Linked DNA regions of Homo sapiens: regions 1, 2, 4 and 5 are each linked to region 3. The links come from fine-mapping of genetic effects on plasma protein levels. A gene starts in region 3. Each other region holds a variant in brackets. All regions are shown on one strand. Distances are between the middles of the regions.

Region 1 (6,576 bases), 75 kb after region 3:
CACACATGTGCCAACACGCCTGGCTAATGTTTTTTTGTAAAGACTTGGATCTTGCTATGTTGCCCAGGTTGGTCTCAAACTCCTAGGCTCATGCTATCCTCCCACATCCCCCTCCCAAAGTGCTGGGATTACAGGCATGAGCCACTGTGCTTGCCCACTAAATTTTTTTTAAGGAAGACTATTGAAAGAAAAATGTGAACATATACAAATGGTACACAGCTATGGCAGAAATCTGGCAAAAATAACTGAAATTTGGGAAACAGTCAGTCTAGCCTCTCCTTTGCAGCCAAAGATGCTGAGGCCCACAGAGTATACCTGAGTTATCCAAGATCATACAGATTGCAGTGTGAACCTGAAGTGTCATCCAGCTCTCTTGAATCTTAGTCAAGTCAGCTGACTGTCCTTTTCCCCTTTTCCTCTCATTTTCATAATCCAGAGACATGAACTATTATCTAAGAGAAGTTGAAGGCTATGAAAAGGGCTGAAGCTTGTTTGAATAATTGTAAATCCTTTGGCAATGGTTGGAACATGAAATATGCAGGGAAAGGCATCAGCAGCTGAGGCAGACAGAGAGGCAGCAGCTAGATCATGGAGGGCTACTGAGTCTAAGGGGATGATCTCTCTGATTGGGAATAAGTTATTGCATCTTCACTGACTCTAAATCAATGATTCACCTTTCAGATGTTTTAACATGGTCCCATTCTGAGCATCATCTTTAAAACAACATAGACGAACTCCAAAGGTAACGAAGACTGTGTGAGAGGCATCCCGAGAGCAGGGATAGCATGGAGGTGATAATAATGTGTGAGAAATGTTAAACATAATGATGGTGTGGATGACAGTGAGCGCAATCACACTGCTTCATGACTTACTCTTTTCTTTAATAAGTGAGATTTTTTTTTTTTTTTGAGATGGAGTTTTGCTCTTGTTGCCCAGGCTGGAGTGCAGTGGTGCGATCTCGGCTCACCGCAACCTCCGCCTCCTGGGTTCAAGTGATTCTCCTGTCTCAGCCTCCTGAGTAGCTGGGATTACAGGGATGTGCCACTACAACTGGCTAATTTTATATTTTTAGTAGAGATGGGTTTTCTCCATATTGGTCAGGCTGGTCCCGAACTCCCAACCTCAGGTGATCCACCCGCCTTGGCCTCCCAAAAGTGTTGGGATTACAGGTGTGAGCCACAAGTACCATATGCTTTATGAAAATACAAGTGGTAAGAAAATGCAAATTATATTTTGATATTCACTTAAAGGCAAAAATAAAATTCTTTTGAAAGTAATGATAACATATAGATAGATATGAAGATCTTATATGGTATTTGCAATTCTGGTCCTTAGCAATGGAATCAATAATGGACAGCCAAGTGTTTTCATATACAGAGCAGTCGCTATCTTTTCAAGAGATTCATGGTGGACAGCGAACCAAATTGTTTACATTATCCTCTTCTCAAATCAGGTATGCCTTCAAGATACATGTACCATGCGAAATTGATTGTACGTGCTACAATCCACATTTTAGAATTGAAGAAATATTAACAGTCAATGATCTAGGCAGCATAAACGATACCTTCTTCTGCAGAATACACCACCGTGGTGGGACTGAAAGGGCCTTCTCCTTTGTTGTTGAAGACACCTACTTTAACCTCAAAGGGAGAGAAGGGGTGCACGCTCTCATTCCTGAACACGTATCTAGAGGCATCAGCTGAGGCCAGCACTGTCAGCATCCAGATCATTTTACCGTAGGGCCGGAAGGCCACCACATAACCAAAGCCTCGACCATTCTGTAATTCCTCAGGGACCGTCTGGGAAAGAAGGAAGGTGGTCTTCAGAAATCACAGTAGTTTCACTCAAATGCAAAAATCGTTTTTGTTTCCCTTGTAACATTCTTGTCTACATCCTTCTCCACCCATCTTATTTGGCGTTTTGTTAACAGTCTTTTAAATTTAGGGCTTGCAGTCAGTCTATCTTAAACAGTTATGATGTACTGGACAGGGTTGAAAACGTAATGAGGATCTGCAGTCCAGAGCTTGCTCTTTGATGGGGCAGACCCAGCTCTGAAATGGTTGGAAATGATTGTAAAAAAAAAAACACTGGACATCGGTCTCCTGAAAAACCACATTTCCAACACGTATCCTCTAATACTAATCTTCTTCCATTGCCAAATAGACAAAAGATCTCACTGAAGGAAGAAAAACCATCTTGGCTGAAGATCCTCCCTCTCAGAGGGAAGAGTTCAGCTGGAGGGATGAGTGATTTCTTTCACTGCTGTGCTTTGGGTAAATGAGAGATTTTAATTTCTGGGGCTGTTTAGAATCTTTCAAAAACATGAAGAACCCTTTCTAAAGCTCCCACCTCTTCTCTCAAAGCCAATTTTTAATAAATTGGTGACTAACTTTCCTCCAGGTTGTTTTAAAAAATACCTCCTAAAAGAGGGCCCCTTCTAGAAGCAAAGCCAATTGCCAGGAAATTGTGCTGGTGCACTGAATCTATTGCTGGCAGACGTTTTAAATCAATTGGCCATGCAGCAATTCAGGAAGAAAAGAAAAACTAGTTTTCTCTGAAACAGCCTTCTTTATTTTTTTTTGTAACGTGTGTTGTCTTCCCTTCATAATTGTTTTTACTGTGATGGATTGAATTAAAACTTGCCTCAACAATGGATGGGCAAGTGCCGTCCTTCCTGCTAGCCATTAGCTACGTGAGAGGGAGTGTCTGAACCCAAATGAATTTTCACTGTTAAAAACAGAGGAGGAAACTTCCCAGCTATGTCTAACATGGAGGAAAATAATAAAATAGCTTCGATGCGTGTACGTTCCTTTTATTCTGTGATTCATTTACCTCCCAGGTTATAACCAGTTCAGATTTGCTGCCTCCGCCACCACTGACATTCGCTGGTGTGACTTCGGGGACTGCACAAGGAGACAAAAAACAAGTTATGTCAGGCGGCAAAGGCGAATGAGGGCCAGGAAGGTTGCCTGGCAGAGGTGACTCACTTTCAGTGAGTACTCTGAGGCACGCCCCTTTGTCTCTGGAGATCAGCAACAGCATTGTCAAGGGGCCCACGGCGACCGCT[C/T]GAGGAAGTGAAATGTACCAAGGAGACTGCTATTAATTACCTGTTTCCCATTCAACAAGGCACACGTGTTATCTGACACGTCTGACCAATTGTTCAGCTCCATCCCTAGAGGCCGAGGGGTTCCCGAAGGGAGGAAAGGACTGAAGTCTGGTCCTAATGTTTGGTTATGCGTTTATGAGCCACGTGGAGATACACAAAGGGAAGAGTACAAGCTCTGCCCAGGCAGAGCTTACAAGCTGGTTGGAGTGGAGGAGCGCCTGCACCAGTTAGAGCAAGGTCGACAACCAGGGTAAGGAACAGTCAGCATGGAGAAGCGGGGGGCGTTCCGGAGTAGCGCCCTGCTCAGAGCTGGGGTGGGCGAATGGCTTCTGGGAGGAAGAGTTTTGATCTGAGTGTTGAAGGAAGTGGCAGACAGAAGTTGACCCCCGGCTCACTGAGCTTAACCTCTTTGATCACCAGTTTTCTCTATAAAAGAGAGGAAATTATGCGAGCTTCCACCTCAGGATTGCTGAGGGGAATTAATTCAATTATGGTTTTGGAAGGGGAAAAGAAAGCAGGGGACTAGCTATATTGTCATCACGTAACTGAAAGGCTCCGGGCCACATTTAAAAAGGTCTCACTGGGGTATGTGGCTGGTGACTGGGTATGTCTCCTTGGTTAAAGCCAATCAAATAGATCTAGATGAGTTTTTGCTTTTCTGAGAGTAGGGTCAGAACTCCTATTTGTGTAGGGACCTTATTATTCCTTCAACACACTGGCCTCTCTACAGGCGGGAACTCTATAAAAGACGGCACATGTAGGCCTCTTGCTTTACACCAGCTAAGTAAAAGTACGGCTGACCCTGATGAACTTGTTCTTCTCTCCCCGTGCTCATTCAAGCTGCATATGCAGAGGGCCATACTGAATTGCTGACTGGTCTTGTTCGAATGAGCACGATGTTCTGAATCTTCGTTTCTGGGAATGGTTTATACCCTAAGAAAGATAATCTAAGTGAACATTTCTGAAGAAATTATTTTTTATTTCTATTCTAAACAGGATTACCCCATGGTGGCTGTGTCCAGAGCAGTCACAAATTATTCTTTGCCATTAGTTACTTATGTGAGATAATTTTATTTGAAATGTGGGATTTTTTTTTGAAATTCTGTTAGAATCTTGGTGACAAATGAACCAATGAAGAAAGGGCTGGCTTTTGAGAGGACTAAGCACCGTGTGTCTCTTGCTGTACAAGTGGACCTAATGAAGAAAACAACTCTTGATTGAAACCCGTTGCGTGTTCAGCTGGGCTTCTCCTGGCCTGATTTCTATCATTATAAACATTTAAAGGGAAGGGTGAGCTAACACAGAGCCGCATGAGCGCTGAAGAGCAGCAAGAATTCAAACGCTTTTCCTAAGGAACAGCAGCTGGCAGAACAGATGATCTGAATCTCGGGTGCTACTCACGAGCTTCTTCTGTTCTCCGTTTCTCTGAGGGGCGGCTGGGCTCCCCAATCCCAATCACGTTGGCTGCAACTGTGCGGAATTCATATTCAACCCAAGGGTTCAAACCCACCACGGTCGCTGTGAATGTCTTCCCATCAATGAGTTCTGGGACTGAAAGACAACAAAAGGTGGGGGCTGTTTCATAGGTTCTCAGAAAACAAATGCAGAGATTACGTTAGGAAGATAGGAACATCCATCCATCCTCATCATTATTGTATTCAGGGCAGTGTAGGTGTTCTGATATTAGCTGCATCAACAGTTGTTTCAGTGAGGTAATCTCAGAACTATCTCTGTATGTTAAACTAACACACTCTAATCAGATACCAGCAGATGACATCATAAAAGACACACAGTCCACAAGACCCCAAACTACCTGACTCAATCATTACTATCACCCCTTCACATGTGTTTCCGCATTTATTGTATAGTGCCAGACACACTATTTCAACTATCCTCTGAGAAAGGTAAAAGTATTATATTCTTTTTTTCTTTTCTTTTTTTTTTTCTTTTTTTGAGACAGGGTCTCTCTCTCTCTCTCTCTGATGCCCAGGGTAGAGTGCAGTGGCACAATCTCGGCTCACTGCAACCTCCACCTCCCAGACTCATGCAATTCTTGTGCCTCAGCCTCCTGAGTAGCAGGGACTACAGGTGCATGCCACTATGCCTGTCTATTTTTTTTTTGTATTTTTAGTAGAGACGGGATTTCGCCTCATTTCCCAGACTGCTCTCAAACTCCTGGGCTCAAGCGATCCACCCGCCTTGGCCTATCAAAGTGCTGGGATGACAGTTGTGAGCCACTGCGCCTGGCCTATATTCATTCTTAAACAATTCTTATTGTGCCCATTTAACAGAAGAGGAAAATGAAGATGTATAGAGATCAGCTGATTAGCAGTCAGGTCTAGAATTCATCTCCTAACTTCTATATTTTTCTCATATTTCCTTCTTAAAGCACACCTGTGACTCAGTGATTACAGAAGGAAACACAGAAACCCATTTCTAAGGATTAGTAAACTAAAGTGAAAAAAACAAATGGGTTAAAATCAACAAGATTTATATGAATTGCTCAACACTGGGCATATTCTCCTTCAAAACATCAAGGCCATATAGCCTACTTTTGCTGTCTAGAGGAGTGTGTATCTTTGTTTGTAATAACTACTTGTTCATCCAATTTATCCTTAAATGAAATCTAAATAAGAAAATGAGTCAATTTGGAGGTACTGACAGAGTGGGGTTGGTATAAGAATTCTTTTACATGCAAAGAGAAATAACTGTGAAACTTTTAAAAAATAGGAAGTGCTGTATACATGTAATAAAGGGAAACAGGATGGAAGTGTTGCTGCTAACAATGTTTTTTTTTTTTTTAAGAATTTGTAAAATTGGTTAAAAAGAAATCTCATGTCTTTTTATCCCCAAATTTATCCATCTAAAAAAATGGGGCTGGACACAGTGGCTCACGCCTGAAATCCCAGCAATTTGGGAGGCTGATGGAGAATTGCTTGAGCGCAGGAGTTTGAGACCAGCCTAAGCAACATAGCAAGACCTGTCTCTACAAAAAATTTTAGAGAATTAGCTGGGTGTGGGGGCCTGCGCCTGTGGTCTCAGCTACTCAACAGGCTGAGGTGGGAAGATTGCTTGAGCCCAGGAGGTCGAGGCTGCAGTGTGCTGTGATTGTACCACTGCACTCCAGCCTGGGTGACAGAGTGAGACCCTGTCTCAAAAAACACAGCAGCAAGTGAAGAGGCTCCCTATAATCCTCTGTTATTGGTTTTTGAGAGCACTGTGTAAACTTTATGAAGTCTGTGACTATTAAGTGACTATAGTCAGGCAGAATCCGCTGCTTTCCAAAGTGAACCACAGTGCTACACAGATGATTTTAGGTAATACAGATTGATGCATTTTATTTTTATAACTAATATATTTTTAATGTGTGTTACGGAAAATACATATACAACCAGCACAACAGACTTTTTTTTTTTTTTTTTTTGAGACGGAGTCTCACTGTCACCCAGGCTGGAGTTCAGTGGTGTGAT
Region 2 (6,425 bases), 48 kb after region 3:
AGCCTGCACTGTCTTATAGTAATCTGTATTACTGTCCCATTTTATAGTTGCAGTTACTAAGGTTCAGAGAAGTTGATAGGAAATGGCATAGTGAGGAGTTGAATACCAGGCTCAGGTAAAAGTGACCCCAGAAATGTGCAGAGGAGTGTCAGGGAAAGCTGAGGCCTGCTTAGGGGTGTGGCTGAGAAGGCAACACCCATGGAGGTGCTGCAATAGTTGGCAAAATGTTTAAAATGTTTGGTCACTCAAATGATTCATAATCTCAAACCTGTTTTTGTTTTTTTTTTTTTTTTTTTTTGTGGGGTGGGTGGTGGAGACAGTCTTGTTCTGTCTCCCAGGCTAGAGTGTAGTGATGTGATCTTAGCTCACTACAACCTCCCTGTCCTGGGCTCAAGCCATCCTCCTCCCTCACCCTCCCAAGTAGCTGGGACTACAGGTGCATAACACCATTCCCAGCTCTTTTTTGTATTTTTTTTTGTAAAGCTGGGGTTTTGCCATGCTGTCTAGGTTCATCTCGAACTCCTGGGCTCAAGCGATACACCGGCCTCAGCCTTCCAAAGTACTGGGATTACAGGCATGAACCACCATTCCTGGCCAGGAAACTGTATTTGTAATGAACACCTTAGGTCAGAATCAGAGGCGCCTGGAGGGCTCCTTAAGACACAGAGGAGTGGGCTCCATTCTTAGAGTCTCTAACTGAATAGGTCTGGGTGAGGTCTGAAAAGCTGCGTTTCTAACAAGTTCTCAGGTGATGCTCATGCTGCTGGTCTCCAGGACACACTCGGAGAACTGCTGCTCCAGGAGAGTCTTATGAATACCAAAATTTGAAAATCAGCCGCTGAAGGAAGATGTGACAGAAAAGTCCTGTCCCCAGAAAACTGTCCTTTTGGGGCGGCTTGGAGCACCCTGTCTGATCTCTTTCAAACCACAACCCAGACAGTTGGCATTGTGGAAACTGCCTCTGCTTAGGAGGCAGGAACAGAAGCAGGGAGCTCCCCCTCCACAAATGTGGCCAGCTCTTCAGTGCTTGGTGTGGTGCCCACTTCAGACTCCTCCCTCCACTCAGCAGCCATAGATCACCTGGGCTCTGTGGAGCTCCTTGCCACACTTCCCTGAGCTGGTACCGTTATCTGGCCCTTGGTATATGTGTTTCAGGAGCAACACAAAGTAGCCCATTGGCCTCCTTGGTGGATTGGGAACTCCTTCCTCCCTTCTTGCCCTGTGCAACTCATAGTCATTCTTTGGGAACCCGTAACCATCATCACTTCCTCCATGAAGCCTTCAAAAGCAGAGTTGGTTGATCCCGCCTCTGGATTCTCATTCTGGGCCTCATACCCGTGTTAGAGCTACTGCATTGTAGAATATACCATTAACAGCTGGGAGGCCTCCCCTCTAGACTGCGGCTTCCAGGAGGATGGAGCTTGTGTGAAATACGTCTTTTTATCTGCAGTGTCTAGGACAGTATCTGACTTAAGAAAATATAAATGTTTCTTAAACCCTCTGTCAGCCCTGATACGGCACCTTGTATATAGGTTAGACTGAACAGTATTTGGCAGAGATCCTCAAGGCCTACAATAATGACAGGGGGAGGAAGCTGGGTATCTAATGAGAATGCGGTTAGTTAGAAGCAACCAGGAGACACATGTGCCTAACAACTGGGCTACTGCAACCTGGATGTTTTTGCTGCCAAAGTGTCTAAATGGTTATGTATAAATTGCTGTGTAAGAGGCATTTCAGAAGTGGCTCACTGTGAGTGGTCTATACTGTTCTCACCAGCCTTGTCATAGCAAGTCAAAGAGTTTGAAATTCACTTAACAGTAAACACCATCAGCAGCAGGTTGATGTAAGGTAAAGTCATGATATTGGCTCCCATCTCTTGCCATCTCTCACTAGGACGAGTGTAGAGAGTCACTTTTCTCCTAGAGCCTCCACAGCCACGGGATCAGAACAAACATGCTTTTCCAAGATATCCGTTCCAATAGGGATTTTTAGCCCAATTTCTTTCCTTGGCATTTGGAATTCACTGCGTGCAGCATGGGGGAGTGCTGGGGAGACTGGAGGGTGAAGGTCACATTTGCCAACAGCCCGACCACCTGAGCCTCATTGAAATGCCTCAGACCTCAAGCTATTCATGCAGGCTGGGGAAGAATCCACGTGGGCAAAGAACATCCTGATTAAAAATCCAAACGTTTTCATGGTGAGACTTCTATGTGTCAGGACCATCTGCTGGTGGAATTAAGAAGCCTGAGGTGCTAATTTGTTAAAGAAAAAGTAGATATCTGGAAGTGAGAACAGAGAACTGAAAACAATCTCTGATGGCACAAGTA[A/C]AGGTGAAAAACCTAATTAGAATAGGACTTGGTGCTAGCCTAAGGACTGTAGCTATTCCTGCTTCTACATCCTTCAAATTGAGTACCAGGGTGCAAATTTTTTCAAAACCATTCCTTCCTTTGGAATTTTGTATTGTACTATAAGACAATCATGCTTATCTCCTGTTTTGTAGGTAATAGATGTGAATATAAATATGTTTCAGAATGAGAAATATTAAACATAAATGACAGTGAATTGTCTAAGTCTGCAATTAAAGAGGGGTGGGTACCTTTCTCATTTTTCCCCTAAATATTCCCCTTCTCTGTCCCCACCATTGTCTTCCTCCATCTCTCAGCTAGGACTATTACAGTAGCCTCTGAACTGAACTCATGGCCTCCAGTATTTCCTCCCTTTGAAGGATCAATGTAAAAGGCACATCTGCCTATATAACTCCCCATCACCTTCAAGTTAAAGCTCCTTTTAAGGCAAAGTCCACTATGACTCAGCTCCTTACTAGCTCTCCAGGCACATACCCAAATACTCCTACCTCCATTCTCACCAATGTGCTGATGATTTCCCTGTAGCTCCATGCTACTGCATCACTCCATGCCTCTGCCGAAACTTTCTCTGGTGGAAAAAGCCTTTTCAACCTCTTTTCATTTTGTTGACATTTTGATTTATCTTCTAAGTCTCGGCTCTTTGCCACCTGAAAATCTTTGCTCAACTTCCAGTTTGAATTAAGTGTCCCTCTATGTTCCTTTTGTTTAATTCTATCAGTGATTGGACTTTCATTTATTTATTTATTTTGAGACAGAGTCTGACTCTGTCGCCCAGGCTGGAGTGCGGTGGCGAGATCTCGGTTCACTGCAATCGCCGCCTCCGGGTCTCAAGCCATTCTCCTGCCTCAGCCTCCCCAGTAGCTGGGCCTACAGGCACGTGCCACCACAGCCAGCTAATTTTTATATTTTTAGCAGAGACGGGTTTTCACCATGTTGGCCAGGATGGTCTCGATCTCCTGACCTCGTGATCCACCCGCCTCGGCCTCCCAAAGTGCTGGGATGACAGGCGTGAGCCACCGCACCTGGCCTGGACTCCTCACCAATGCTCTGTCTCGTTTCCAGTGCAAACACTCTGAGGCCAAGAGCAGTGTCTGACTTATCTTTGTGTCCATAAGCCCCAAGGAGGAACTGACTGCTGGTTGAGTAACCAGACGAAGGAAAAGGAAGTGAGCTTATTAAACATTTAAAAGAACGGAAAACAATATAGATTCTAAAGAACTATGTTCTAATGGTAGGTTCATTTATTAAAGCTGTGTGGTTATAGCAGAAGTTAAATCGTCACTGGAGCTTAAATTAATGAAGTAGTAAAAACTCACAGTGGGTGTGATGCTGGTCTCAGAAACGCTGCCCTCCACCTCCGCGGCCGGCATCACCCACCATTTGGCTCTCAGTAGACATCTGCGTTGTTGGTTGTCAGGAGCAACACAAAGCCGCCCATATGGCCCATGTGCATGATTTTAAAGTTCTAGCGGACTCTTTTCAACTTGAAGGTGTTTTATTAGGTTTGTTTCATTTATTAAAATTAAAAGCAAAGATTTGTCCCTGCCAAGTAATAAACTGGAAGAACACAGAAACCTGAGGGGAAAATTGCAAGAACGAAATCAGCAATAAAGTACTGGTGTCGTAGTTTAAAGGTCGGCAAGCTGCTGCTGCCTTTTTTTTTTTTTTTTTAAGACAGGGTCTCCTGTCTCACCCAGGCTGGAAAGGCTGGAGTGCAGTGCTGTGATCACCGTTCACTCCAGCCTCGACCTCCCGGGCTCAAATGATCCTCCCACCTCAGCCTCTCGCGTAGCTGGGACCACATGGGTGTGCCACCATGCCCAGCTAATTTATAAAATTTTTTTGTAGACACAGGGTCTCCCATGTTGCCCAGGCTGGTCTTGAACTACTGGGCTCAAGTGATCATCCAGCCCTTGGCCTCCCAAAGTGTTGGAATTACAGGCACGAGCCAGCAAACTCTTCTTAAAGGGCTAGATAGTAAATATTTTCAGCTTTGAGGACCATATGGTCTTTGTGGCAGCCACTCAGTTCTTCCGTGATAGCACAGAGTGGCCGTAGGCAATCTATAAATCAGCATGGCTATGTTGCAATAAATCTTGATTTACAAAAAAAGCGGGCAATGAGCTAGATTTTCCCAGAGGGCCAATATTGACACATGGCTTAATGGATTCAAAATATTTATGAATGTGTTTTTCTTTTTTTTAAGAAAAGCAACCAATTTGGGAAAATAATCATGTTTAATCAAATGAAAATATTCTATCCTGGGGGATCAATGGTAAAAAAAATTGTGTTTGACTGAACTTAACCTCATTATAAGTAGGTTTTGCAAGAAACACAGGTCCAGCATTGTGTTCATACCTTTATCTGTCACACTATTCACACCATCCTTCAATAAGTGTATTTCTGTCTCCTTCAGTGAACCATGAGGGAAGCCTTAACCCTATTTATCTCAGTTTCTCCAGTGCCCAGCAAGTGCTTGACACATAGTATGCACTCAATATCTTATTTGTTAACCACTAAATTCAAGAGGAACAACTGGGCCAATTCTAACTGCCAGTTATTTGGTCTCGGATATTTGGTCCCAACACTGCAGTTGATAAACGATGCGTCCACTACATAGTTTTCCAACGAGCTGTGCTGTGGCCTATGTTCCTGGCAACAAACCCATTTTTTTAAGCTTTCAGAATATTTCTGGAATCCCTTCCACCTGCTTTAACACCTTCTTGCCACATAATGTGGGCCTTTGCTGGGGAAAGATTCCCTTGTCTTAAAACTCTTTTCTGGGCTGGGTGCGGTGCCTCACGCCTGTCATCTCAGCACTTTGAGAAGCCAAGGTGGGTGGATCACCTGAGATCAGGGGTTCGAGACCAGCCTGACCAACATGGAGAAACCCGTCTCTACTAAAAATACAAAATTAGCCAGGCGTGGCGGCGCATGCTTGTAATCCCAGCTACTCAGGACGCTGAGGCAGGAGAATCACTTGAACCCGGGAGGCGGAGGTTGCAGTGAGCCGAGATTGCGCCATTGCACTCTATCCTGGGCAACAAGAGCAAAATTCCGTCTCAAAAAACAAACAAAAAAAAAACAAAACCTCTTTTCTGCCAGCTCTAAGAGGAACTTCACCCACCAGCCCTGTCTCTCTGGACACACACACATCCCATCCTCACACCATCCAAGGAAAAGTGGGAAGGAGAGTTCAGCAAACGAAACAGAACTCAAAACAGCAAACTTCATGTCTCGCCCTCAGAGCCATTGACCTTCAGAGATCTGACAACACATTCGCAAGACCCTGAAATTTTGAATTACAAATTAATTACTTCAATGAGAGTAATGAAGACCTCCTGGTGTCAGGTTGCCAGATTTAGCAAATAAAAATAAGAGGCTCAGTTAAAGTTGAATTTCAAATAAATATCACATGGGGCATACTTATACTAAGGAAGCATAATTTTTTTTTTATCTGAAATCTAAGTTTAATAGCTCCTCTCCTATTTTATTGGGTAATCCTGATCTTGAAGGGTAGCCGGAGTTTAAAGAAACAGCTCTAAGACACCTGAAGTCAAGGACAACGAACACGCAAAAAACAACATTTGCAGTCAAGGAAAGAGAAGCAGAGAAGCTGAGCCACTTTAGAGCAGACTGAAGCTCATGACTGCCTTTCCTTCTTGTTGCTATATGGGAACCGTATCTATCTGTCTATTTATCTATCTACCTACCTTATTGTTTATGTATCATCTATTTACAGATAGAGACATCTAATGTTTTGGAGTAGGGCCCTAAACCCAAGCCACCAGCATTTCAATTCCTGGTCTCTCTGATCAACTGTGTGATCAGGGACAAATGTGAACCTGTCAACCTCAATCCTCTGTGTATAAAATAGGAATAATAAATGGTAACTAAATCGGTAGGTTGATTTGCACTGAGTCTGGCACATATTATAAGCATAATCACTGTTTACTATTATTATTATCATTGCATTTCTCTGTATTGTGACAAAATACTGTTACTGGTGCCTTGGCTTCCTCACACACATCTGAATGCCACATCATTCTTCTATGCCCA
Region 3 (6,422 bases):
TATAAGGCAACTGACAGTCCCAGGAACATGGTAGCTTCTCTTTTGACTGAAATGGGACATTAATCTACATTAACAACATAAGTTTAGCCCAGGTGTGGTGGCTCATGCCTGTAATCCCAGCACTTTGGGAGGCCGAGGTGGGCAGACCACCTGAGGTCAGGAGTTCGAGAGCAGCCTTGCCAACATGGCGAAACCCCATCTGTACTAAAAAATACAAAAAAAAAAAATAGCCGGGCGTAGTGGCGCACACCTGTAGTCCTGGCTACTCAGGAGGCTGAGGCAGGAGAATAGCTTGAACTCAGAAGGCAGAAGTTGCAGTGAGCCTAGATCGTACCACTGCACTCCAGCCTGGGTGACAGAAAGAGACTCCATCTCAAAATAATAATAATAATAATAAGAAGAAGAAGTTTAATTGTGTAGTTTTTGCTATTGTTTTTACACATTCTGGTTGATTTCCTGTATCTGGTTTTCAGAGCAAAGAACTGGTCTCTGACTAAAGAACTGAAAAAAGGACTAAAGAACTGAAAAAAGCTTAAGCTACTGAAATTCTTTACTGAATAAAGATATGCTTTTAATTTTAGCTACATGGGATAACTCAACAGATTGATTTTACACTAGAATTTTTCTAACGATTACCCAGAATTCTGTTTCAATCCTTTGAGGGTATCTAATCCTGCTAGGGTATTTTTTAATGACAGTTTTATTGAGATATAACTTACATATCATAAAATTCACCTATTCAAAGCGTACAAGTCAATGGTTGTAATATATTCACAGAGTTGGAAACCATCAATACAATCAATTTAAAATATTTGTGTTATCCCAGAAGAAAATCTCATACCCATTAGCAGTAACTTCTTATTTTTCCCAAACTCCCTCCATCCCCCGGCAGCCCTAGGCAACCATGAATCTATTTTCTATCTCTATAGATTTGCTTATCCTGGACATTTCATATAAGTGGAATCATGCAGTGTGTGATCTTTTGTGACTGACTTCTTTTACTTAGCTTCATGTGTTCAAGGTTCATCCATGTTGTAGTATCAGTGCTTCTTTTGATGGCTGAATAATATTTCACGGCATGGATATACCACATATTCTTTATCCATTCATCAGTTGCTGGACATTTGGGCTGTTTTCACTCTTTGGCCATTATAACTAATTCTTCTGTGAATATTCACATATAAATTTTTATGTAGACACATGATTTTAACTCTCTTGGGTGGGTATTTGCCTAGGAATGCAATTACTCAGTCGTATGGGAACTCCACATTTAACCTTTTGACGAACTGCCAGGCTGTTTTCCAAATTGGCCACCTCACTTTACCTCCCCAGCAACAGTATGTGAGGGTTCCAGTGTTTCCACATCTTCATCAACAGTTGTTATTGTCCTTTTCATTTCAGCCATTGGAGTGGGTGTGAAGAGGTATCTCAGTGTGGTTTTCATTTGCATTTCCAATAGCTAATGATATGGAGCAGATGTTCCTAGGCACCTTTGCTGTTGGTACATCTTCTCTGGAGATATGTCTGTTCAAATTCTTTATCCCATGCTTAAACTGGGTTATTTTACTTTTTTCTTTCTATCTTTCTTTCGTTTTTTGAGAAAGGTCTTGCTCTGTCACCCAGACTGGAGTACAGTGGCACGAACACGACTCACCAGAGCCTCAAACTCCTGGGCTCAAGCTATCCTCCCACCTCAACCTCCCAAAGTGCTGGTATTACAGGCTAAAGTGGGTTATTTTTCTTTTTATTGTTTGGTTTTAAGAGTTTTTGACATATTCTAAATAAAAGTTCCTTGTCAGATATGTCTTTGCAAATATTTTTCCCATGCTGTGGCTTGTCTTTTCACTTCCTTGTATTTTATTTTATTTTATTTCAGACAGAGTCTTGCTCTGTTGACCAGGCTGGAGTGCAGTGGCACGATCTCAGCTCACTGCAACCTTCGCCTCCCGAGTTCAAGCCATTCTCCTGTCTCAGCCTTTGAGTAGCTGGGATTACAGGCACCTGCCACCACACCTGGCTAATTTTTGTGTTTTTTAGTAGAGACAGGGTTTCACCATGCTGGTCAGGCTGGTCTTAAACTCCTGACCTCAGGTGATCTGCCTACCTTGGCTTCCCAAAGTGCTGGGATTAGAGACGTGAGCCACTGCATCCGGTCTTTTTTCACTTTCTTCATGGTATCCTTTGAAGCACAAAAGCTTTTAATTTTGGTGAAATCCAGTTTATCTATTTTTTTCTTTTGTTGTGTCTGCTTTTGTATCTTATTGAAGAAACCATTGGGTAGGTGCGGCGGCTCATGCCTGTAATCCCAGCTCTTTGGGAGGCCAAGGTGGGTGGATCACCTGAGATCAGGAGTTCGAGACCAGCCTGGCCAACATGGCAAAACCCCATCTCTAGTAAAAATATAAAACTTAGCCGGGTGTGGTGGCACACGCCTGTAATCCCAACTTCTCGGGAGGCTGAGGCAGGAGAATCGCATGAATCCAGGAGGCAGGGGAGTTGGCAGTGAGCTGAGATCATACCACTGCACTCCAGCCTAGGCGACAGAGTAAGATTCTGTCTCAAAAAAAAAAAAAAAAAAAAAGAAAGAAACAAAATGAAGGTCATGAAGATTTATGCCTATGTTTTCTTCTAAGAATTTTATAGTTTTGCCTCTTACTTTTAGGTCTTTGATCCCATTGGAATTCATTTTTGTCTATGCTGCGAGGCATTCTTTTGCATGTGGATATGCACCACTTATTGAAAGGCTGATCTTTTCCCCGCTGAATTGTCTTGACACTCTTGTCAAAAATCAATTGACCCTAAATGCGAGAGTTTATTTTTGACTCTCAATTCTATTAAATTGATCTGTATGTCTCTAATATTTTTTAAAATAACTTTTTCTGCCTGCATTTGTACAGAATAAAACGTTTGTAAATATAGAAACACAGAATAAAAGTAAGAGAAACACTAACCCTGCCGTGGTAGAATGAACTGTTGGTCCCATTTCTTCACTCCCCACTAGGAGTTGTCCATGTCCACATCCTTATCATGGCCTTATCATGGTGGAATGTACTTTGGGCTTCGTCCATTTGACTCCGGGCTTGGCCATGCAATTTGCTCAGCCTCTTGAGATGTCAGGGAATGTGACATGAGCAGATGCTTGATGCGTGCTTGTGCAGTTGGTCCTGCTCTCTTGCACTTTTGCTGTCACCATAAAAAGATTATGCCCTGGGTAGCCACTGGTTCCAAATGAATGGCAGATACTTGGAACAAATCTGAACTCACTTTGTGATCTGGATCCCAGCCCAAGATTAAGCAGACCCCAGTCAAAACTCAGACACATGGGCTACAAATACATGCCTATCACAGTTTACCACTGAGGGTTCTGTGGTTGCTTGTTCTGTAGCAATAGCTGACTAATACACCTACCACTTAGAGATAACTATTCCTGTTAGTCTGATCTTCTGACCAAAAATAAGACTGTAAAAAAAAATTACATGTGTGTATACCCTCCTGTTGTTTTTACTTAACATTTTTTCATAATACCCTATGTTATTAAAAGTTCTTGATTGGCTCATACCTGTAATCCCAGCACTTTGGGAGGCCAAGGTGGGAGGATCACAAGCCAGGAGTTTGAGACCACCCTGGCCAACATGGTGAAACCCTCTCCCTACTAAAAATACAAAAATTATCTGGCATGGTGGCACATGCCTGCAATCCCAGCTACTCCGGGGGCTAAGGCACGAGAATCACTTGAACCCAGGAGGCAGAGACTGCAGTGAGCCGAGATCCTGCCACTGCACTCCAGCCTGGGTGACAGGGCACCACCCTGTCTCAAAAGAAAAAAAAAAGTTATTGATAAACATTCCTTTTGACATCCACATCACATATTTCAACCTTGAGCAGTTACATATTTCTCTTCACCATTCCTATAGTACTTTTACTATTTTACTATTGTAAAGGTACAATGAATTTTGCTCTCTTTTGTATAAATCTTGATCTACATTTTTCCATTATTTCCATGGAATCAAGTTCTAGAAGTTGATACCTTTAATAAGCTCCTTTAACCAAAGTTCATGGTAGAGCCACTGAACCATGATTTTCGTTTTATTACTATTCATATTTCTATTTGGCTAAACTCACATTGTTTTGCTTAAAGGATGCAGACACATTTAATTTCACTTTTTAAAAAAACGACTTTTGTGAATTCTTCCAGCATGTTCTATCATACTGTCTTTGGACGTTTACACTTTATTATAAAGAATTAAATTATTGCCATAAAAAACCAAACAGGCCTCGCTCAGTGGCTCACGTCTGTAATCCCAGCACTTTGGGAGGCCGAGGTGGGTGGATCACCTGTCAGGAGTTCAAGACCAGACTGACCAGCGTGGTGAAACCCCATCTCTACTAAAAATACAAAAAAATTAGCTGGGTGTGGTGGCGGGGGCCTGTAATCCCAGCTACTCAGGAGGCTGAGGCAGGAGAATCGGTTGAACCCGGGAGGTGGAGGTTGTGGTGAGCTGAGATCGCGCCATTGCACTCCAGCCTAGGCAACAAGACTGAAATTCCATCTCAAAACAAACAAACAACCCCCCCGCAACCCCCCGCCAGAAAAAAAAAAAGTCCCTGCCTCTCATTTTTTCGTTTGTGCTTATACAGAAACATAGAGACAGTGTTTCTGTATGAGCATGTGTTTGCTTTGTTTGTTTGTTTGTTTTTATTGGCGTAGTTAATTAAAGATCATATACCCAGGAAGGTGGTATGGAAGGAGCAGCCAGATCTAATTTTCTTTATACCCTTCACCGCGCCTAGCATAGTGCATAGGTGCATTCAATGAATATTTGAGTAAATGAATGTAAGAAATATACAGACCATTGGCTGAGTGTGGTGGCTCACACCTGTAATCCCAGAACTTTAAGAGGCCAAGGCGGGTGCATCACTTGAGGTCAGGAATTTGAGACAAGCCTGGCCAACATGGTGAAACCCCATCTCTACCAAAAATACAAAAAATTAGCCAGGCGTGGTGGCGGGTGCCTGTAATCCCAACTACTCGGGAGGCTGAGGCAAGAGAATCGCTTGAACCTGGGAGGCAGAGGTTGCAGTGAGCAGAGATTGCGCCACTGCACTCCAGCCTGGGCGACAGAGTGAGACTTCATCTCAAAAAATATACATATATATATACGGAGAGAGGCCATTAAAGCAGGCTTTTAAGCCAGAAATTACTGTCTTCCCAATGATTAATAAGTATTTTTAAGGTTTCATTAGTGACAAATATGTTACATGTATAAACAGATGGGCAGGACTTAAAAGAGTAGGCCAGATAGTTGATACTATATCTAAACTTTTCTGGGTGCCTCTTAGCAAATAAATGGATCTCTCTCTGTTCCTTGTTTTACTTCCCCTTTCCCCGAGGAAAATCACATTTTTCAGGTCTGACAACAATTTTCAACCTGATAACAATTGCTCCGGTTTCATTTTGGCAACTGCTAAAATGGTCACCTTGGGAACCCCAGGCACACACGCTGACTGTACTTGCACAGCTTCTACACTGAGCCTTTTGGAAATTGCCTCCAGGAAGCCTGTCTCTCATCTCACAAACAGAACCACTGATCCAACCTGGGCCACCATCTTTCTGCATCTGCTCTGTCTGAGACTCTCCCAGTCAGCTCCTAAGGAGACAGGGAATCCTGCATCACTCATCGCTTAGGCTAGACTGAAGGTCTCCTTCCAAAGGCAACTACTTACTACTCTCTGCCGTGGGTCATACAATAAGCACTACTCTTATCTATTCACACGCTAAGCTACTTTTTTAAAGCCAGCTTTGCTAGCTAGCCACCTCGAAATTCCCCAGAAGGAATCAAACAGAAATGGAACAAAGGACAGGAAAAGCCAAGGAGGTTTGCTGAAATTGAAGCATTCTGAAGACAGCTGGGTGGTAAAATGGATGTGACGTGAGGAAGGTGGTCTTGGGTGCACCCACAGACCAACACTGCCATTGTTACAATTTGTGTAGGATGATCTCAGGTGACAGACAGCAGCAATTTATCACACCCAGAAACGCATCCCCCACACATATTTACTTGAGGGTACCAGACCTGCTCACAAAGCAGAGAAGAGCTAAGGCGGTTCTCTAAGGGCAGAGAATTGCTGCTATTGCCTAGTGAGTGGGGAGAGGGTACTCCTCAGGCCTTACTTCCTATCAAATCATGTGTCAGTGTTGCCTAGGAGACAGAGGCACAGTAACTACTGTAGCCAAACAAGGCACATAAACAAAACAGAAATGCAACGCTTTAGAGTACCCACGGAAAACTTGTTTACCTTGTCACCATGAGTAAAAGTTAATTCCCACTCCTGAAGAGAGCAAACCAACTCTGAAAGAGAGTGAAAATGCAGACAAGACAGTTATCAGATAATGGCTATCTGGACGAGAGATTCTTTCGTTT
Region 4 (5,000 bases), 22 kb after region 3:
GAGTGTTGAACATTGGTGACACAACAATGTGAAACTATTTAATATCACAAAGCTGTACACTTAAAAAGGATTAAGATGGTAAATTTCATTATATGTATTTTACAATTAAAAAAACTCATTAGCACTAATAGACAAAAATTTCAAGGGGAAAGGAACTGAGAAGAAAGCCAATCAACATTTCTTGAGCATCAATTATGTGTCAAGCTTTATTATGTGTTTATTCCATCCTCACATAATTCTATGATGTAATTACCATTCCCATTTTATAGGAAAGTGAGGCAAAAGAGATGAAGTAACTCTCCCACAGTCACAAAGCTAGGAAAAAAAATAGGATTCCAACTTATGTCTTACAGAGAGTAGACAAAGCCAATTCAATTAGATTCAACAAATATTTACAAATTGGCTTCTTTGTGAGAAATAAGACTGTTTCTGCCATGGAGTGACCCAATCTTGTGACATACTTGCCCAGCCTTGGGGTTGCCCTCCCACAGGAAAAGCCAGTACAGCTAGAGATGGGGGTGTGGGCACAGAGCCTGCTCTGCAGAGAGGAATTGAACGGAATCTGTAAGGATGAAGAGAAACTAGTCTGGTGAGAAAACATGAGAAGGACTTTCTTAGCCAGAGCTTCCCAAAATACTTACACTGAAGGACTGTGTGTGCACGTGTGTGTGCGTGTGTTTTTATAATGTCTAATCTACCATAGATTGGTGCTTTTGTCAAATACAATAAAAATGATCTGCTAGAAAAAATTAAATATAGCCAAAGACATGTAAAGTGTCAGTTCACTGATCATGTGTTTGGATATCATGGCAATGTCAAATTGCTATCAAAACTTCCAAATTGCAGTCATAATTTTATCTGTATTTAGCCCATCACAAGCCAGTAATAAATAGTTCCTGACTTGCACCAGCCTAGGAAAAGGAGTAACTTTATGCTTGAGAGAGTATGGTTCTTTCAGTCAAGTGGCAAGTAATTCAGTCTGCCTGGATGCCTGGACATAAGACCAATGCTGAAATCATGACTCTGTATCTGACATTGTGATTTCTCCCAGAGTGGCTCTATAAGATTTTGCTAAAAAATAAAGAAGTGGCTTCTTTTTTAAAAACCATGACTCTGGGCAATGGATGCCACTGAAGAGTTTTACACAATAGAGAAATATGTCTACATTTGCAGAGTAAAAGAAGATTTTTGGTAGCAGCATGAAAACTGGATGTGAGTGGGGAGGGGCGACATGGACATATGATATCAGTTAGCGGCTACTGCAAAGGTCCAAGCAAAAGATAATAAGAGCTAAAATAGGCAATGGTCACAGGGCTGGAGTAAAAAAGGGAGAAACACCTCCGGGGGTATTCAAGATACAGGTGTCAGGAGCACATCTCTGGTACAGGGGACTAGCTGGATGGTGGCGACCATGATCAGTAGAAGGAAAAAGAAGAAGGGCTCATTCATGAGAAAATAGCTTCATTTCAACACTAGACAATCTAGCGTTCATGTGACATTATTTAGTAATGTGACTATAGATTATGGAGAGACAAGGTGAGGGAATAATGCATTCTAGCATAGGCCACTCCAGTCTTTCAGTCTGGAAACATCAGCTGGGCCTGGATAGGAACACCTGGATCTTGACCGTTGATCATTTCGTATATTTTGGTTACAAGATAGCGTTCCACTGAAGGGTGACTGCCAACACATCCACACTAACGCACCTAGCATAAACGAATTAATGTGTGCCCTGTTGATTTTAAAGGACTTGCTGAACAGTGAGTCACATGACCTATATAGGACCTCCCATTCTGATAATCGGCAGAACTAAATTAGGTGTCTAGAGATTCTTCTAATGCTATCTTTCCCCACTTAGATAGAAAAATTGATGACCAATGCATTCATCTCAATAATTGATGATCTTTCTAAGTACGATGTTCAAGTGAGAGCAGCAGTGAGCTCCATGTGCAGAGAGGCAGGGCTCTGGAGTGAGTGGAGCCAACCTATTTATGTGGGTAAGTAGCTTATGTTTATTTTACATTGGCAGCCTTCCTTGTGATCAAAAAAGGTAATCCCAGAAACGTACCCGTTCACTCGTGGGTCTTAAAATGGTTTCATATCTCTATTGTGACTAATTTTCTCTCGGTCTACTGCCTTTTCAATCAGGAATAGATTTGCCATGAAGCCAGTGAAGTTTTTAAGTGTCTAGGCTTCTCATTAGCGCCAACTCTCCTAGACCTGGTGCCTGTTTTTTTTCCAAGTTTTGTTTCTACTTCTATCCATTTTTTAAATTAAACTTTTTATTTTGAAATAATTATCACACTCACAAGCTGTGGGAAGAAATAATAGAGATCCTGTGTCTCTTTCATCCAGTTTTCCTCAAGGGTAACATCTTACAAAACTATAGTACAATAGTGGAATAGAATATTGGTGTTGGTAATCCAGATCTTACTGATTTCATCAATTTTATATGTCCTCATTTGTTTGTTTGTTTTTTTGTTTCTTTTTGGACAGAGTCTTGCTCTGTCGCCCTGGCTGGAGTGCAGTGGCGCCATCTCAGCTTACTGCAACCTCTGCCTCCTGGGTTCGAGCGATTCTCCTGTCTCAGCCTCCCGTGTAGCTGGGACTGCAGGCACATGCCACCACGCCTGGCTAATTTTTGTATTTTTAGTAGAGACAGGGTTTCACCACGTTGGTCAGGCTGGTCTCGAACTCCTGACTTCAGGTGATCCACCGGCCTCAGCCTCCCAAAGTGCTGGGATTACAGGCATGAGCCGCTG[T/C]GCCGAGCCATATGTCCTCATTTGTATGTGTCTGTTTGGTTCTATGCAATTTTAGCACATGTTTAAGTTCATGTACCCATCACCACAGTCAAGATACAGAGCAGTTGCATCATCACTTGTTACACTTTTATAAATACACCCATCTCTCTCTCCTCTCTTCTATCCCTGAACTCTGGCAACGAGTAGTCTGTTCTCCATCTCTTCGATTTTCCCATACCTAATTTTGACTTTATACTTTTTTAAAAAAAGAAGATTCCAAAACTGTGTAATCTATAGGGTCCCACAAAATCTGGATCTGTCCCTGAGCCTTCAGCCTAGCAGATATAGAGTATAAAGAGGTCCATGCATCACCGGGACTCCTGTGTTAGCTCTGCAACTGTTTATGTTACGATCAAATGGACTAGTTTGCTTGGCAAGTAAGATGGGCATCGTCTCTGTCAGTGAGATCCATGAAGGATAATAATATACCCAATGGCAGCTATGGATGAAGGGGCACATTTCCAGTCTTACCCTGACACAGATGTCAATTCCACACCCAGGACATGTGGTATTGCACCTTGAAGATAGAAAATTCATACCCTGTGTTGGCCGGGCGTGGTGGCTCACTCCTGTAATCCCAGCACTTTGGGAGGCCGAGATGGGCAGATCACGAGGTCAGGAGATCGAGACCATCCTCGGTAACATGGTGAAACCCTGTCTCTACTAAAAAATACAACAACAAAAAATTAGCCGGGCGTGGTGGCGGGCGCCTGTAGTCCCAGCTACTCGGGAGGCTGAGGCAGGAGAATGGCGTGAACCCGGGAGGCGGAGCTTGCAGTGAGCCGAGATCGCACCACTGCACTCCAGCCCGGGCAATAGAGTGAGACTCCATCTCAAAAAAAAAAAAAAGAAAGAAAAGAAAAAAAAAAAAAAGAAAATTCAAACCCTGTGTTTGCTATTATCCAGGTGTTTCCGGCAAGTCAACATAGGCATTGTATGAGAGAAGGAAACAGTTAAAAAGCAACTAGTGCGTCTCATGTGTATGATAAACCATTCAGCCTGGGGAGGCACACACACGTCGTTAACTGTTGCACTAGGTCTATAAGAGCATGGGATGGTGGGAAGAAGACTGGAGCCTTACATAGAAAGCCCAGGTTTAACATTCAGCCTTTACAAGGATTGATTGTGTATCCCCAGACAAATAATTTCTCTCTGTTTCCTAGGGTTCTCAAGATAAAGGAGATAACATCCAGCTTTCCTGCCCCACACCGTATCTGAAATAAAAACAACAGCAGGGATAGCAGATTACATGTGTTTTTTAATTTTTATTTATTTTGCCAAGCACTATGCTAAATACATAATCTTAGTCCTATCAAAAAACTTGTTTGGAAAGTTTAGGTAATTGGCTTAACTCTGTTCTGCATGGCCAACAAGTGGCAGGGATGGGGCTCTAACCCCAGATTAACTGACTCTAGCACTTGATCTCTGGACACTCTGGCATGGTGGGACAGGATTCTGCAAGCTTTAAAGTGCTGGGTAGATTAAAGTCTTATTTAAGAGATCTTGGGGATGGGTGCGGTGGCTCACACCAGTAATCCCAGCACTTTGGGAGGCCGAGGTGGGCAGATCAGGAGATCGACACCATCCTGGCTAACATGGTGAAACTTGTCTCTACTAAAAATACAAAAAATTAGCTGGGCGTGGTGGTGCGCGCCTGTAGTCCCAGCTACTCGGGAGGCAGGAGAATCACTTGAACCCAGGAGGCAGAGGTTGCAGTGAGCCAAGATTGCGCCACTGTACTCCAGCCTGGGCGACATCTCAAAAAAAAAAAAAGACATCTTGGTAGCCAACCTTTGTGATTATGGGTGATCAAGCATGTGGATGCCATCTCTCATGAATCCTATGAGGTATTCATCAACCATTGGAAGAGTATACATAGGAGAGATTTAGTTCAGGCACATGCCAAAATGTTCTACTATTTAATTCATTCGCTTAAGCTATGGGGTAGGTCTTCAGGAAAGTCTCGGGCAGTGACCCATCAGCCCATGTGAAAATGACTCCGATCTGACACACAGCAGGTAGATTTCCACTGAAGACTGGGAAAGATAAGGAAAGGCCTAATAAATGGAGAACTGTTCTGAATCTGCCAGGGGGCTGGTCGTGCTAAGTTACCGAGTTCCCAAGGGAGAATAGCGTCCCCTAAAGTTGTGCAACACACAACCAGCTCAGCCTTACAGGGGTAGCCCTCACATCACTCAG
Region 5 (5,000 bases), 15 kb after region 3:
CAGCTTACATTTCTACAATTCTAATTATCCTCTGAACACTCTGATACAGGATGACACTAATAAAAATTATTTCTGTTTTGAACCAAGTGGAATTCACTTAAATGATTCTTTGGATGAGAACTATAAGACAAAGAGTTGTCAGGATCTCTAAAGTGTACTTGGGTGTGGACTTTCTGGTCATTTAATGCATGGACAAATATATATTAGGTTGGTGCAAAAGTAATGACCAAAATCACAATTACTTTTACATCAACCTAATATATGCATATATACATGAACTGAATAAGTCAATTTGCTTTGAGGTAGTTCTTCTTTTTGTCTGTGCAAAAGCACAGATATGAAGAAGAAATCCATCTTTAACTTCTCTACAGGTAATAAGAGGCTCTCTCTCATCATCTTCTCCCTCTGCTTCTTGAAAGACACTGGCTGACAGTGATAAAAATGATCTACAGCTCACTTAAGCTACGATCAAAAGACCCCCTTCTATCTCTCAAGGCTCCCACTTGAATGCGGTCCTTCCTGGCCCAGGTGCAAGAGCTTGTTTCCTTCTCTGAGCAACCACCAACAAGGCCAGTGTTTCCCACAGTGTATTTTAAAGACCAACAGTTAATACAGCAACGAGAGGTTGAAATGAAAACAAGCCTTTCTAGTCACATAATTTGAGAAATCCTTAATGAAGCAAACATAAAAAGGTTGCATTTAAAATCTTGGCCGGGTGCGGTCGCTCACGCCTGTAATCCCAGCACTTTGGGAGGCCGAGGCGGGTAGATCACTTGAGGTTAAGTGTTCGAGACCAGCCTGGCCAACATGGTGAAACCCCGTCTCTACTAAATATACAAAAATTAGCTGAGTGTGGTGGCACGTGCCTGTAATCCCAGTTACTCGGGAGGCTGAGGCAGGAGAACTGCTTGAACCCGGGAGGGTGAGGTTGCAGTGAGCTGAGATCATGCCACTGCACTCTAGCCTGGGTGACAGAATGACTCTGTTTCCAAATAATAATAATAATAATAATAATAATAAATAAAATAAAATCTGAAGGTTTTGTTTTTTGAGACAGGGTCTCACTCTGTTGCCCAGGCTGGAGTGTAGTGGTATGATCTTGGTTCATTGCAGCCTCGACCTCCCCAGCTCAAGTGATCCTCCCACCTCAACCTCCCGAGTAGCTGGAACTATAGGCACATGCCGCCACACCTGGCTAATTTTTGTATTTTTTGTAGAGTTGGGGTTTTGCCATGTTGCCCAGTCTTGTTTCAAACTCCTGAGCTCAAACAATCTGCCCGCCTCAGCCTCCCAAAGTGCTGGGACTACAGGTGCATGCCACCACACCTAATTTTTATATTTTTTGCAAAGACGAGGTTTCACCATGTTGCCTGGGCTGGTCTCAAACTCCTGGGCTCAAGAGATATCCACCCGCCTTGGCCTCCCAGAGCACTGGGATTACAGGCATGAGCACCGTGCCTGGCCAATTCAAGGTTTTCTTCAAGTCCTAGTATATTAAAGAGGACTTTAACATGCTAATGTGCATCAAGTCTGCAAAGTCTGCAATCTTGCAGTGTTGTCAAAACTCATTTCTTCTGAGCAGCAACCTATGTAATTCATGAAGAATTTGGATACAACCTAATGAATCACACAATTCTAGGATGGAAAGGGATACGCAAGACCTTCCTGTACCAACCCGCTCCTTTACAGTTGAAAACACAGAGCCCAGAAGAGTGGGGGTCAATGTCTCACAGCTAGTTATTAACAAATGTGGCATTAGAGCACCAAAGTTGCCGGACATCAACCTCAAAATGACAATATATTGTACTTCTCTTGAACTTCCACACATGTATTGCACAAACACCACCCCCAGGCCCCAAACAAAATAGCTGGGAAGCTCTCGAATATCAGAAATGGGGACTTTATAATTCTAATTCCATATCTCCAGTAAGTTGGCCTTTTGTAGTTAGTAGGTTTCTAGAAATATGTGATCATGGCCGGGCATGGTGGCTCATGCCTGTAATTCCAGCACTTTAGGAGGCTGTGGGTGGATCACTTGAGGTCAGGAGTTCAAGACCAGCCTGGCCATCATGGTGAAACGCCAGCTCTACTGAAAATACAAAAATTAGCCAGGTGTGGTGGTACACACCTGTCATCTCAGCTACTTGGGAGGCTGAGGCACGAGAATCGCTCCAAGCCAGGAGGCAGAGGTTGCAGTGAGCCAAGATCGCAACACTGCACTGCAGCCTGGGTGACAGAGTGAGGCTCTGTCTCAAGGGAAAAAAAAATGTGAAGATGATTATTTTTTGGTGATGAATACGACGTTCACATCACTATAGTTCCAAAAGAAGCATGAAATTCAGAGTTTGCCATGGCAATGTTTTGTCCTTTTTACTTTTGACTACCTAGGGTCTCCTGGAACCTCA[A/G]TTGTGAATTTAACTTGCACCACAAACACTACAGAAGACAATTATTCACGTTTAAGGTCATACCAAGTTTCCCTTCACTGCACCTGGCTTGTTGGCACAGATGCCCCTGAGGACACGCAGTATTTTCTCTACTATAGGTTAGTACTGTACCTATTTTTACTTAGGCAAATGGTTGTTTCCTGCAACCTCATAACACTCGTAAATGTTCCAATTTAGGTATGGCTCTTGGACTGAAGAATGCCAAGAATACAGCAAAGACACACTGGGGAGAAATATCGCATGCTGGTTTCCCAGGACTTTTATCCTCAGCAAAGGGCGTGACTGGCTTGCGGTGCTTGTTAACGGCTCCAGCAAGCACTCTGCTATCAGGCCCTTTGATCAGCTGTTTGCCCTTCACGCCATTGGTAAGACCGACTTAACCCAAAGCTGAAATAACTGAATCTCGGAATCTCAGCACTGGAAGGAAGGGTTATAAAGATCACCTAGTTTTACTGCTTCTCTGATGCCAAGTAAGCATCAGACCCATGTTTGAAAACCACTGGGGCAAGGTTCTCCATTCCAACACCACCAGTGAGTTTTGCTGGACAACTCTGTGTTATGGAGGGCTGTGCTGGGCACTGTAGGATATTTAGCGGCATCTCTGGCCTCTACACACTAGATGCCAGTAGTATGCCCCTCTGTCCTTGAGCTGTGACTTTTAAAAAAGTCTCAGACTTTGCCAAATGCCCCTCAAGGGGTAAAATTTCCCCCAGTTGAGAATCACTGCACCAGAAAAAGTGAATTTAGCTGCTTAAAAGAGACCATTTAATCCTTCATGAGTTCTGACAGGTTTTGTGAAATTTCTGCCCCTGGGTCCTGTGATGGACTAGTGCCACCCCAGGTGATTTGAGTCCCTTCCCTATAGAATAGCCTCTCTTAGCTGTTCACAGGCAGCACGTTTCCCATCCAGAAGCCCTTCTTCTCCCAGGCTAACATCTCTCTCTCTCTGAATTTCTCACTGTTCTGGCCCATCTCCTGGATGTTCTGCAGCTCGAATATCTCTCAGTGTGCAATTCTCAGCTCTAAAAATTCTATTCGTGGTTTTGTCTGCTCAGTTCTCAATAGAGAAGACACTCTCCCTCATCCCAGATAGTTCTATTAGTGAAACTCATCAGGCGCTCTCACATGGCATTCTTAGTTATGGAGATTCCAGATTTCAATGGTGGGTGGTTATTATGGGCTGTGGGGCCAGACTGCCTGGATTTGGATCCTGGCTCCACCACTGGCTGAGTGACCTTGGACAAGCTGATCATTCCTTTGTGCCTAATCTTCTTATCTGAAACAATGGAGAGGAATCAATACTTCCTGTGCAGTCTTCGTGAGAATTGTGTTACTAATGATAAAGCACTTAGAACAGTGCCTGGCATAAAGGTTTAATAAATACACTACAATATTATTTAGAAGGTATGATTTGGCTGTGACATATCTATATCCAATGGAATATAACTTTGTGTAAAGAATCATAGCCCTTACTAAAGAGGTTATGCAATTCTCTCCAGTAATATATTTCTTAGGTGAACTAAAAATGTCACTTTCATGAAAATAGGCAATAAAAGATGCCGAGGAAGACCTAGGAAACAATGATATTAATATGAAAATGGATATGATCTAGTACAGACCACAGGAATTCATTTTTCTTTTATGATTTTCATTTTATTGAGGCTGATTCCTAGGATTACTAAAATAAATAAGTACTTTCTTGGTTAAGAATTTTCTTCATAGGGTATAGGAGGCTCTGAAGCCAGTGGATCCCACTCCTAGCTTTTCCCTATTAATTGTGAGATCTAAGTCATATTACCTAAGACAAGGACACTCATTAAGAATTCATTTCCCCTCACCTCACCGGACCATAAGACAATCAAGTGAGATCTCAAGGGAAAGGACATTAGAGTCCTAAGTAAAGACAAATTTAGCCCAATCCACTCTTCTTCTTCTTCTTCTTCTTTTTTTTTTTTTGAGACAGATTTCTTGCTCTGTCACCCAGGTTGGAGTGCAGTGGCGCGATCTCGGCTCACTGCAAGCTCCGCCTGCTGGGTTCACGCCATTCTCCTGCCTCAGCCTCCTGAGTAGCTGGGACTACAGGCGCCCACCACCACGCTCAGCTAATTTTTTGTATTTTTAGTAGAGAGGGGGTTTCACCACGTTAGCCAGGATGGTTTCGATCTCCTGACCTCGTGATCCACCCGCCTCGGCCTCCCAAAGTGCTGGGATTACAGGCGTGAGCCCCCACGCCCTGCCCCAATCCATTCTTTTTGATGCAAAAGAAAACTGAAGCTTCCTGCTCCAGCCCCCAAACAAACAAAAACCAAAAGACGCAGTAAACAAAATGAAATTAAAATTAAAAACTGAATCTCAGAAAGGGGAAGTGATTTGTTCAGGGCCACATACCTACTGGGAAGAGGCAAGGCTTGGTGGAAGGTCCAGGGAAATGTTCTCTCAGTGGTCAGGTTTATTCTGGGCCTGGTACAACTTGAGTAGTAAAGGGGGATGGTGGGTGAGTCTTGCAATGAGCTGAGGGGGGGAAGTAATTCAAGCATTCAACTCTATTTGGAGTAG

Direction of the effects. Alleles are on the strand shown, and positions count from the first base shown. The strength of an association depends on the size of the effect and on how common the allele is.
As copies of C replace T in region 1, the plasma level of the protein whose gene starts at base 6,247 in region 3 goes up (moderate association).
For the plasma level of the protein whose gene starts at base 6,247 in region 3, C is the high allele of the variant in region 2 and A is the other (strong association).
For the plasma level of the protein whose gene starts at base 6,247 in region 3, allele C in region 4 goes with a lower level than allele T (weak association).
In carriers of allele G in region 5, the plasma level of the protein whose gene starts at base 6,247 in region 3 tends to be higher than with A alone (strong association).

Evidence for each region. PIP is the chance, under the fine-mapping model, that this variant and not a neighbour inherited with it causes the effect. The UK Biobank Pharma Proteomics Project read protein levels with antibody pairs (Olink). The fine-mapping took linkage between variants from a reference panel, not from the people measured, so its PIPs are less certain.
Region 1: its variant is fine-mapped to the plasma level of the IL5RA protein (UK Biobank, PIP above 0.99).
Region 2: its variant is fine-mapped to the plasma level of the IL5RA protein (UK Biobank, PIP above 0.99).
Region 4: its variant is fine-mapped to the plasma level of the IL5RA protein (UK Biobank, PIP above 0.99).
Region 5: its variant is fine-mapped to the plasma level of the IL5RA protein (UK Biobank, PIP above 0.99). The variant lies in the coding sequence of IL5RA. If it changes the protein, the assay may bind it differently, which can mimic a change of level.

What each region holds. Positions count from the first base shown.
Region 1 is chr3:3,035,260-3,041,835 of GRCh38, reverse strand. It overlaps CNTN4 (contactin 4), which reads right to left. Exons shown (of 25, transcript NM_175607.3): 18 at 4,508-4,657; 19 at 2,833-2,903; 20 at 1,565-1,799. It overlaps CNTN4-AS1 (CNTN4 antisense RNA 1), which reads left to right. Exons shown (of 4, transcript NR_046554.1): 3 at 682-791; 4 at 1,454-2,175. Among named protein-coding and RNA genes, the nearest start is that of CNTN4-AS1, 23 kb to the left of the region's middle. RefSeq lists enhancers at 3,180-3,289, 2,524-3,723. The variant C/T (reference allele first, on the strand shown) is at 3,068.
Region 2 is chr3:3,062,461-3,068,885 of GRCh38, reverse strand. It overlaps IL5RA (interleukin 5 receptor subunit alpha), which reads left to right. Exons shown (of 12, transcript NM_175726.4): 12 at 1-2,562. Among named protein-coding and RNA genes, the nearest start is that of CNTN4-AS1, 4.5 kb to the right of the region's middle. The variant A/C (reference allele first, on the strand shown) is at 2,328.
Region 3 is chr3:3,110,199-3,116,620 of GRCh38, reverse strand. It overlaps IL5RA (interleukin 5 receptor subunit alpha), which reads left to right and starts at 6,247. Exons shown (of 12, transcript NM_175726.4): 1 at 6,247-6,422.
Region 4 is chr3:3,089,221-3,094,220 of GRCh38, reverse strand. It overlaps IL5RA (interleukin 5 receptor subunit alpha), which reads left to right. Exons shown (of 12, transcript NM_175726.4): 9 at 1,859-1,997. Among named protein-coding and RNA genes, the nearest start is that of IL5RA, 19 kb to the left of the region's middle. RefSeq lists a silencer at 4,970-5,000. The variant T/C (reference allele first, on the strand shown) is at 2,763.
Region 5 is chr3:3,095,679-3,100,678 of GRCh38, reverse strand. IL5RA (interleukin 5 receptor subunit alpha) reads left to right here. Exons shown (of 12, transcript NM_175726.4): 6 at 2,389-2,542; 7 at 2,622-2,809. Among named protein-coding and RNA genes, the nearest start is that of IL5RA, 12 kb to the left of the region's middle. The variant A/G (reference allele first, on the strand shown) is at 2,406.